2 separate regions of the Homo sapiens genome follow, and region 2 is linked to region 1. The links come from fine-mapping of genetic effects on gene expression. Tissue or cell type: whole blood. Region 1 holds a variant in brackets; the other region holds the start of a gene. All regions are shown on one strand. Distances are between the middles of the regions.

Region 1 (5,378 bases):
TCAGTGTCAGGCATATGGTATAGACTCAATGTTGCTTAAAAAAAATGATGTCATAACAGGAATTTGTTTCTGTACTAATAAGTAACGCTAATAAGGATGAAATCAAGGCTATAAGAAAATGGGTCTTTTATAGGTTGGTAAAATTGATGTTTGAATAATTTTGTAATTCTCTCTATGGCTGAAGCATGAAATAGCAATAAATTATTTCTCTTGGTGAATAGTTAAACCCCAAAAGTCTGAAAAGCTATACGAAGAAAACTAAAATAATCCCTCCCCTCAAAAAACATGATTCCAGGCACCGTGGCATGCACCTGTAATCCTACCTACTTGGGAAGTTGAGACAGGAGGATCACTTGAGCCCGAGAATTCTAGACTAGACTGGGCAATATAGCAAGACACTGACTCTAAACAAAACAAAACAATAACAAAAACATATCTTTTTCCCTACACTGAAAATCATATCCCTTGTTAAACTTCTTTATACTTCCAGAAAAGCTACGGAAAACACATAAGAGTAAATGCTGATATGATAGCAACTCATCTGTCCAGTATGCTCAAGAACAAAGAGCTCCGAATAAGGGAAATTCAGGAGTACATTAAATCACTCTCAAGAAAAAAATGTTTAAAATTGTTGTGATGAGAACTTTTTAAACTGTTAAATACTCTGAAACTTCTCAGTTCAGAACATATTTTAATCTTTTTTAAATATTCAAGTTCTTATTTTGATCATCAAATTATAACATCATGTAATGATACCCAAAAACCTTTTTTTGTTTGTTTTTTGTTTTTTTAAGATGGAGTTTCACTCTTGTCGCCCAGGCTGGAGTGCACTGGTGAAATCTCGGCTCACTGCAACATCTGCCTCCCGGACTCAAGCGATTCAACTGCCTCAGCTTCCCAAGTAGCTGGGATTACAAGTGCCTGCCACCATGCCCAGCTAATTTTTGTATTTTTAGTAGAGACAGGGTTTCACCATGTTGCCCAGGCTGATCTTGAACTCCTGACCTCAGGTGATCCACCCACCTCAGCCTCCCAAAGTGCTGGGATTACAGGCGTGAGCCACGGCACCCAGCCAATGCCCAAAAACTTCTGACCTGTAAAGACTACCCCACGTTAAACAGGGCTGTTGTTTTTATTTACTTTATTATTATTTTTGAGATAGGGTCTTGCTATGTCGCCCAGGCTGGGGTGCAGTGGCATAATCTCGGTTCACTGCAACCTCCACCTGCCGGATTCAAGCGATTCTCCTGCCTTGGCCTCCTGAGTAGCTGGGATTACAGGCGCGTGCCACCACAGCCCGGCTAATTTTTGTATTTTTAGTAGAGATAGGATTTCACCATATTGGCCAGGCTGCTCTCAAACTCCTGAGCCCAAGTGATCTGCCTGCCTCAGCCTCCCAAAGTGCTGGGATTACAGGCGTGAGCCACCACACCTGGCTAAATAGGGCTGTTGTTTGAGTCAGTATTTACGTTCTATCCTTTCTTGTAAATACTACACCAACAATCAACAATAAAAATTGATGGTTTTGGCCAGACGTGGTGGCTCATGCCTATAATCCCAGCACTATGGGAGGCCGAAGTGGGTGGATCACCTGAGGTCGGGAGTTAGAAACCAGCCTGATCAACACGGAGAAACCCCATCTCTACTAAAAGTACAAAATTAGCCAGGCATGGTGGCGCGTGCCTGCAATCCCATCTACTCGGGAGGCTGAGGCAGGAGAATCGCTTGAACCTGGGAGGCAAAGGTTGCAGGGAGCCAAGATCGCGCCATTGCGCTCCAGCCTGGGCAACTAGAAACTCTGTCTCAAAAAAAAAAAAAAAAAAAAAAAAAAATTGATGGTTTTCGCAAATACCACATGTTCTCACTTATTATTTAAGAGCTAAATGGGCCGGGCGCAGTGGCTCAGGCCTGTAATCCCAGCACTTTGGAGGCTGAGGCAGGAGGCTCAAGAGGTCAGGAGATCGAGACCATCCTGGCTAACACGGTGGAACCCCATCTCTACTAAAAATACAAAAACAAAATTAGCCAGATGCAGTGGCAGGCACCTGTAGTCCCAGCTACTTGGGAGGCTGAGGCAGGAGAATGGTGTGAACCCGGGAGGCAGAGCTTGCAGTGAGCCGATATGTCGCCTCTGGGCGACAGAGGGAGACTCCATCTCAAAAAAAAAAAAAAAAAAAAAAAAGCTAAATGATGAGAACTCAAGGATATAACGAGGGGTAACAACAACAGACACTGGGGCCTACTTGAGGGTGGAGGGTGGGAGGAGGGAGAGGATAAGAAAAAATAACTATTGGGTACTAGGCTTAGTATCTGGGTGATGAAATAATCCGTACACCAAATCACCATGATGTGAGTTTACCTGTATAACAAACCTACACATGTACCCCTGAACCTAAAATAAAAGTTTAAGAAAAAAGTAGAAAATTGCTGGTTTTCGTCAACTTTCATCTTGACTCTTCTACTTTTAATTTGCTGTTATTGACAAAGAACTGATAGTTGCTTTATAAAATTAAGTTGTAAAACCAGTCACTCAAATATAATATGCACTGTGAAGTGAAAAAAATCAGCACTTTATCCCTCACTATTCTTAGATTTCCAAATGGTGAGGTCACTAGAAGTTCAACAGACAAATGGAACATTACTATACTTACTGGAAGTTGTAGTTTCCCACCCACCCCCTTTTTTTTTTCTTTTTAAAAAGATGGGGGGTCTCATAATGTTTCCTAAGCTGGTCTCAAACTCCTGGGCCCAAGCCGTCCTCCCATCTTAGCCTCCATAGTAGATGGAAACACCGGCGCACCACTGCACCCAGCTTATCTTTAATGGAATTGCTAACTAGATGTCAAAAAAAGTTTGACTTTTTGACTACAAATTTTTGATTATTATCCACTTAAATAAAACAGTTAAGAAAGTGATAAGGGGCCGGGCACGGTGGCTCACGCCTGTAATCCCAGCACTTTGGGAGGCCGAGGCGGGCGGATCACGAGGTCAGGAGATCGAGACCATCCTGGCTAAAACAGTGAAACCCCGTCTCTACTAAAAATAGTAAAAAATTAGCCAGGCGTGGTGGCGGGCGCCTGTAGTCCCAGCTACTCGGGAGGCTGAGGCAGGAGAATGGCGTGAACCCGGGAGGCGGAGC[T/C]TGTAGTGAGCCGAGATCGCGCCAGGGCGACAGAGCGAGACTATGTCTCCAAAAAAAAAAAAAAAAAAAAAAAAAAAAAAAGGTGATAAGGTTATAGTTAGTATGAATTTCAATATTCATCTTTGTTAACCAAATGATCTTTGAAATATAGTTCTGATGATATTATTTCCCCACAATAAAAACCACAACATCAAATTTTTCCTGTTACCTTAAAATCACTGTATCATTTTGTGGATTCAAGTATCCTTCATTTGCGAGTAAGTCCAAACGGAAAAATCTATTATAGCCCCAGCATTCTCCAACTTCAAAGTCAGATGCAAATTCTCGAATGATATTTTTTGTAGGATCATTACAGGACTGGTGAACCATCTCTACACGATATTCATATCTAAAATTGAAAAACAGACCATTACTATACAGTTAGTAAAGTAAGAATAAAAAACAAACTCATCTAAACATTAAGGTCACTAAGTAATTACCTGAGAAGAAACCTTATTGATATACGCAGTTACATTTCTTTTATCATTTATAAAAACAGCAGTATTTTGGGGTTTTTTTATTTATTTAAGATGGAGTTTCACTCTTGTTGCCCAGGCTGGAGTGCAATGGTGCAATTTCAGCTCACTGCATCCTCTGACTCCAGGTTCAAGTGATTCTCCTGCCTCGGCCTACAGAGTAGCTGAGATTACAGGCGTGTACCATGCTTAGCTAATTTTGTATTTTTAGTGGAGACGGGGGTTCATGTTGGCCAGGCTGGTCTTGAACTCCTGACCTCAGGTGATCCACCCACCTTGGCCTCCCAGTGTGCTGGGATTGCAGGCGTGAGCCACCACACCCGGCCAGAAAAAGAGCAGTATTTTTTTGTTTGCTTTTTTGAGATAGAGTCTCACTCTGTAGCCCAGGCTAGAGGGCAGTGGCGGGGTCTCAGCTCACTGCAACCTCTGCCCCCCAGTTCAAGTGATTCTGCTGCCTCAGCCTCCCAAGTAGCTGAGATTACAAGTGCACACCACCATGCCCAGCTAATTTTTTGTATTTTTAGTAGAGACAGGGTTTCATAATGTTGGACAGGCTAGTATCAAACTCTTGACCTCAGATGATCCACCCTCCTTGACCTCCCAAAGGGCTGGGATTACGGGTGTGAGCCACTGCGCCCAGCCAAAACAGCAGTATTTTGAACGAACCACCAAAACATGAATGGCAATAGGTCCTTTTTTCCTCGTAAAGATGTTTACCGATATATCAGGTATAAAACAACACCTCAAAAAATAAATAAATTTTGAATAAACAAGTAATTCAAAGTTGCTTTTGTTTTACTAATGCAATATTTTTTCCATATATTCACTACATATGTTTCCTCATAAATATTGTTATTTCTATTATCCTTTGAGGTTTATCACCTTGCAATTTTAAAATATAAATTTTGAAATACTCTACTGTATTTTGCCAGTACAAGTGATAAGAAAGCAAATTATTGTGTATTCAGAAAATCAAAGGCTATAAAATTTCCTAATAGAAAATAAGTATGCAGCCATAAAAAAGAACGAGATTATGTTTTTTGTGCAACATGGATGGATGGAGCTGGAGGCTATTATCCTCAGCAAACTAACACAGGAACAGAAAACCAAATACCACGTGTTCTCACTTATATTGTGGGAGCTAAATGATGAGAACTTATGAACACAAAGAAGGAAACAACAGACACTGGGGTATGCTTGAGGGCAGAGGGTGGGAAAAAGGAGAGGAGCAGAAAAGATAACTATTGGGTACTGGGCTTAATTCCTGGGTGATGAAATAATCTGTACAATGAACCCCCATGACATGAGTTTACCTATGTAACAAACCTTCATACGTAACACCAAACCTAAAATAAAAGTTAAAAAGAAAAGAAAAAGGAAAAAGAAAATAAGTAAGCTGGACACAGTGGCTAACACCTGTAATCCCAGCACTTTAAGAGACCGAGGTGGGCAGATCGCCTGAGCCCAGGAGTCTGAGACCAGCCTGGGCAACATGGCGAAACCCCGTCTCCATAAAAACAAAAAACAAAAAAATTAGCTGGGTACGGTAGTGCATTCCTGTAGTCCCAGCTACTTGGGAGACTGAGGCAGGAGGATCACCTGGGCCCAGGAGGTTGAGGCTGCAGTGAGCCATAATTGTGCCACTGTGCTCCAGCCTCAGTGACACAGCAAGACCCTGTCTCAAAAAGAAAAGAAGTATACATTGGGAAAGCCAATATATTCTA
Region 2 (5,378 bases), 510 kb before region 1:
ATCACTAGGAGGGTTCATGCTGGTTGGGATTGGATGGAATTCCCAGGGCTCTCTCCTCCCCAGGAACTGCTTTATCCATAGCCCTGGCCTCTGTCATGCTCATAGGGCTGGAGTATATTTTGGGCCACAATGCTCACAGCAAGAAGTCCCTGCTGCCAAGATTTACTCCTTGAGGTCTTGTCCCCACCCTCCCCTGCCCCCAGAGAGGCCAAGAGTATAAAGGGAGAGGAGGGTCACAAGGCCTGGGGACACTTCTCTTAAGGATTCTAGAGCTGCAAGACACACTGATGGCCTCAAGGGGGAGGCCCAGACATCTCTGAAGATCTTGCCTGGGCAGCACCAATAAGTACCCCAGGTGGTAAACTTGGGGCATGAGGAGGGTTCTGAGGAACCAGAGAAACACATGAGAAGAGCCCCCAGCCTGAATTAGCGTGAAGTCAACTCTGAGCAAGACTGTGAAGCAGGCGGTTTGCTTTGGTGTATTTTTTAAAATCATGTGATAGATGACCAACTAAGCTGAAAAGGCCATGAGGCTTAAATTATTCTCCATTCCAGAAGTAACTTCCTGTTAAAAGGAGACTCTTGAAAATGGAAAAGGTTCCAAGCCCCAAAGAAATGACTCTAATGGTGAAATTTTCAGCAAGATGAGAAGTTCCTCTGCTTCTTCAGGTCAAAATCCCAGCATTTATCTCCTAAACGACCCAGCTCTGTAGATACATAGATGCCACTCCTCACCTGTCCTCCCATCCCCCAAGCTCCCACAGTGGGCCCATAGGAGGGAAAAGCACAGACCTTTTAGCCACCAGATGACACGATTGTACATTTCCTCAGAGACATCTGAAAGTAACAGAGAGATGGTTGCTTTTCTTCTCTCTGTGGGATGCACATCCCACTCTCCACTACTTGCAGCTCCCTTTCTAGCTCCACATTTCTCCACTCAAAGGTGCCCTCAGCCCTTGGTCCTCTCCAAGAAGCTCCTCCAGCCTAGGACTATATATCGTATTCCCACTCTCCCTTTCTCTTTTTTACACCCTCTCTCTGTGCCACTGTGAATGCCTTTCCCCTCCTGGAATCCCAGCTCATCTGCATCCCACCCTCTCCACTTTGTAGCCAGAGTATTTACCTGAGGCCCTTATTCTATTTAACAGCCCTTGCCAGCCCTCACCCCAGCTCAGTTCTTCATCCCCACTCAGGAAGCAGCTTTCAACCCTGCAAGCCCCTCTCTACTACCTTCAATTAAAAAGGTAAGCAGTGTTGCCTGGAGGAGTCAATGCCTGTCGCCCGGCCCAAGCATCCATCATCAATGTCATTAGCTTGGAGCACAGAGAAGCTGGCAGGGAAGGAATGGAGCAATAGGCTCAAGGATAGGACTAGCTTTGGCACTGGCAGGAGAGCAGCCCTTAGGCCCAGAATGAAGAGGTGGTCTTTCCTGCCCACCCCAACATCCCATCTCACTAAATTGGGGCTGCACCTGGGCAGTCTGCTTCTTCACATACCCAGGAAGAAAGCAGTAAACCTTTGAATGGGTTGTTTGCAGGTGTGCTTGGGGGTCTGTGGCACTTCACTCAGTGGTGCCCAACTTGGAAACTCCTTTGGTGGTGATGGTGGTGATAGGCTTGCCTTCTCTCTCTGGAACTTCAGATCCTCACAGAAAGGGCTAGAGTCTATTTTAAAACCGGACAATAAAAGATCTAGGGAAGGAGAGCACTTAGGCTCAAAATCCGGTGTTGTCAGCTGGCTTTGGGGTGTTTCAACTTCAGGATTCAGCAAGGGCCACCATGAGGAGTCAGGTCCGTACCTAGGTAAGGACCGAGGAGGCAAGGGCCTAGGGGTCAGTTCCAGTTCTGCATGGATGGAGGGCTTTTGCGAGAGTTCTGGATACCTGGGTGTAGGTCCTTGGGACATGTAAGTAATTTCTGGGGGTTTTTGGGTTTGCTGTTTATAGATGGGCTCTGGAGTAACAAACATGGATGACTTGTGGGAGCCCTCAGACACTGATGGAACTGTCACATGGTGAGTTGGCTCTACTGACTGTACCCCTGGGGAGATGGTGACCCTGCGGCCAACCTCGCTGTTTCCTCGGATTGGGGTCCTCACGTTGGACTCCACCTGTGATGATACTAAGACCTTTGCGGAGGGCTTGGTTTCAGGATAGGCAGAATACTTATGAAGAGACTCAGGGTCTACCCGTGCAGAAACTCGGTGTACACCATCAGAATCTTTAAGGACAGAGAGTTTGAGCAATGAGTCCAAGTTCATATTCCTATACAAGGCCTTGGGTTTTGAAGGAATTGGACCGTAAGGACCTGTTTCTGATTCTTCTACAGGGACCCTTCTCTGGGCTGTCTGATAGTCTGCAGAGACACAGCTGCTTCCGTGCTCTAGGAGAGAGGGACTCCTTGGAGATCTGATCTCACTAGTAGTCGTAATTCTTTGGATGGGCTCAGTTTGTACTGCTTCATCCTTTGGGTAAGACAAAATCCTACGGGGAACTCTGACTCCTTGGGGGTTCTGGACCTTGGATGGTGGGTCATCTTCTAAGATTTGTGATTGTAAGTTATTCTTCTGGTCTTGAAAACTCAACTGATGAGTAGATTTGGCATCTGGGATTGATGAAGCATGATGGCCGACCTCGCGCCCTGACTTGCTCTCACTGCCTCTTCGTGCTGCTTCCTCTCTGGGTGGACTAACTTTCCATTGTCTGCTTGAAGCATGGGAAGCCAGTGTCTGAGTCTTCTGGCTCTTTAGATGGGGAGAGGAATGGCGGGATGATTCTGTTCTTGGTCCAGTCTCGGGTCCCCGAGGAGTGGGTACTGCATAGTGTCCAGGTCCTGACTGGAGGGAGACAGATCGAGGGTAGTCTGATGCTGAATGGGGAGTGGTGGGATGTGCAGCTTCTGATCTTCGGTGGGAAGGGTTCAGGGAGACTGCAGCACTTCGATGGCTTGAGGCAAGAACGTACCCATGTCCCTGCTGAGGGGATGTGTTAGTAGTAACCTCAGACCCTCTCTGTGCTGAAACCGCTACCTTGGCCCCAGGTTTATTTGTCTTGACCATCTGATAGATTGTGCCCTTCTGAGTAGATCCCGTATTTTACTGGCTGGCTTGTATTCAGGATCCTAATGATGCCTGAATATTTACCCTGTTTTAAAGCTGCTGTTTCTTGGGCTCCCACAAAAGTGGCTGTTGTTCTAAGAGTGTCTCAAATAATCCCCTTAGCTACCTCTCTGTCTGGTGATGTCATAAAGGAAGGAGCTTCCTTCCTATTAAACATCCTAGTGTACAGCCACAATTCTTCACAGAATCCCAAAGAAGTACCTGAAAGGAATCTGTGGATTTGTCTTTGGAGTTATATCACCAAGCCTTTGGCAAGTTTTTAACAAAACTGGGATTTCCTTGTACATAGAGAAGGCTCCAGACCCTCCTTTACTCTCCCGAGATTCTAGAAATTCTCAGGACTCATCCAGAGAAGGAATCAGCCAGAAGATCCTATGAAGACAAGATCAAACCAAACACGCTGTGTTCGCCCCAGTTTTAATAAGGTACGAAGTACAAAGTTGCCCCAATTTTGTTTGAAACTGTACTGTATACAAGTTAAAAAAAAAAAAAAAAAGAGAGCTTCAGCTTTTTCCAGGTCTCATGGATTGTTTCATTGCTCCTGGGGTAAAAATCCAGGTTGCTCAAATAATAAAATTCTCACATTCTTGCTCCAGGAGAGTTTAGTGTTTTATTAATAAAAGGGATTTGCCATGTGCGGTGGCTCACGCCTGTAATCCCAGCACTTTGGGAGACCGAGGCGGGTGGATTGCCTGAGGTCAGGAGTTTGAGGCCAGCATGGCCAGCATGATAAAACCCCGTCTTTACTAAAAATACAAAAAAATTAGCCAGGCATAGTGGCAGGCACCTATAATCCCAGCTACTCAGGAGGCTGAGGCAGGAGAATCGCTTGAACCCGGGAGTTGGAGGTTGCAGTGAGCTGAGATTGTGCCACTTTACTCCAGCCTGGGTGACAAGAGCAAAACTCCATCTCAAAAAATATATATAAATAAAAACAAAATAAAAGGGATTTGGGCTGGGTGCAGTGGCTCACACCTGTAATCCCAGCACTTTGGGAGGCTGAGGCGGGTGGATCACCTGAGGTCAGGAGTTTGAGACCAGCCTGGCCAACATGGTGAAACCCCATCTCTACTAAAAATACAAATATTAGCCAGGCGTGGTGGTGCGTGCCTGTAATCCCAGCTACCCGTGAGGCTGAGGCACGAGAATCGCTGGAACCTGGGAGGCGGAGGCTGCAGTGAGCTGAGATCGTGCCACTGCACTCCAGGCTGGGTGACAGAGCAAGACTCCATCTCAAAAAAAAAAAAAAAAAAGAAAGAAAGAAAGAAAGAAGGAATTTGGAGTTAATCATTGGTTTCCATCATAAATGACTACAGGTGTACCTAGGAGAAATTACCTGCCTTCCCTGGGACTTGGTTTCTTCACCTGGAAACCACTGCCTGGTACATGGGTGTCACACAACAAATGTTAATGTCCTTTCTCATGATCCTGTCAGCTATCCAATCAGCCGGACTCCGGTTCTCTCTTGAAAAGTGACTTTCCAATTTGGATGACCATTTTGGAGGAGACTCTGTCACCTTTCTCTCCCTTTCACATGCTCTTTCTCTCATTCTCTCTTTTAGACATAGACTCTACCATATCCAAAATTCTATTATGAACTCTGAAGGGTCATTGAGATTATAGGATGGTCAGCTTCATTTTTCTTTTTTTTTTTTTATTTGAGATGGAGTTTCAAATAAACTGTGCCCAGGCTGTTGCCCAGGCTGCAGTGCAGTGGCGTGATCTTGGCTCACTGCAACCTCTGCCTCCCGGGTTCAAGTGATTCTCCTGCCTCAGCCTCCCGAGTAGCTGGGATTACAGGCGCATACCACCATGCCTAGCTGATTTTCTTTTTTTTAGTAGAGATGGGGTTTCACCATGTTAGTTAGGCTCGTGTCAAACTCCTGACCTCAGATAATCTACCCACCTCGGCTTCCTAAAGTGCTGGGATTACAGGTGTGAGCCACCGTGCCCAGCCAGTTTTAAGTATTTCTAAACCCTTTCTATTCCCCAAAATGAAAGCAGCTTTGGCTAGGTGTGGTGGCCCAGCCTGTAATCCCAACACTTTGGGAAACTGAGGTGGGCAGATCACTTTAGCTCAAGAGTTCGAGACCAGCCTGGGCAACATGGTGAGATCCCATCTCCAGCAAATAAATAAATAAATATTTTAAAAAATTAGAAAACAGTTTTACAAATAATTATAAAAAGTTGAAATCACCTAAGAGGACCCCGTTACTATTTTAATAAGCATCTTTCCACATTTCTTTCTATGCATTTACTAT

Evidence for each region. PIP is the estimated chance that this variant, and not a neighbour inherited with it, causes the effect.
Region 2: it holds the start of SEPTIN4, and the variant in region 1 is the best candidate, but not a certain one, in a credible set for the expression of SEPTIN4 in whole blood (TOPMed, PIP 0.53).

The regions. Positions count from the first base shown.
Region 1 is chr17:59,053,528-59,058,905 of GRCh38, forward strand. It overlaps TRIM37 (tripartite motif containing 37), which reads right to left. Exons shown (of 24, transcript NM_015294.6): 13 at 3,348-3,527. Among named protein-coding and RNA genes, the nearest start is that of TRIM37, 51 kb to the right of the region's middle. The variant T/C (reference allele first, on the strand shown) is at 3,140.
Region 2 is chr17:58,541,130-58,546,507 of GRCh38, forward strand. SEPTIN4 (septin 4) reads right to left here and starts at 3,199. Exons shown (of 14, transcript NM_001368771.2): 1 at 1,497-3,199; 2 at 793-837. The coding sequence starts at 3,057. It overlaps SEPTIN4-AS1 (SEPTIN4 antisense RNA 1), which reads left to right. Exons shown (of 5, transcript NR_110810.1): 3 at 2,328-2,469; 4 at 3,407-3,542.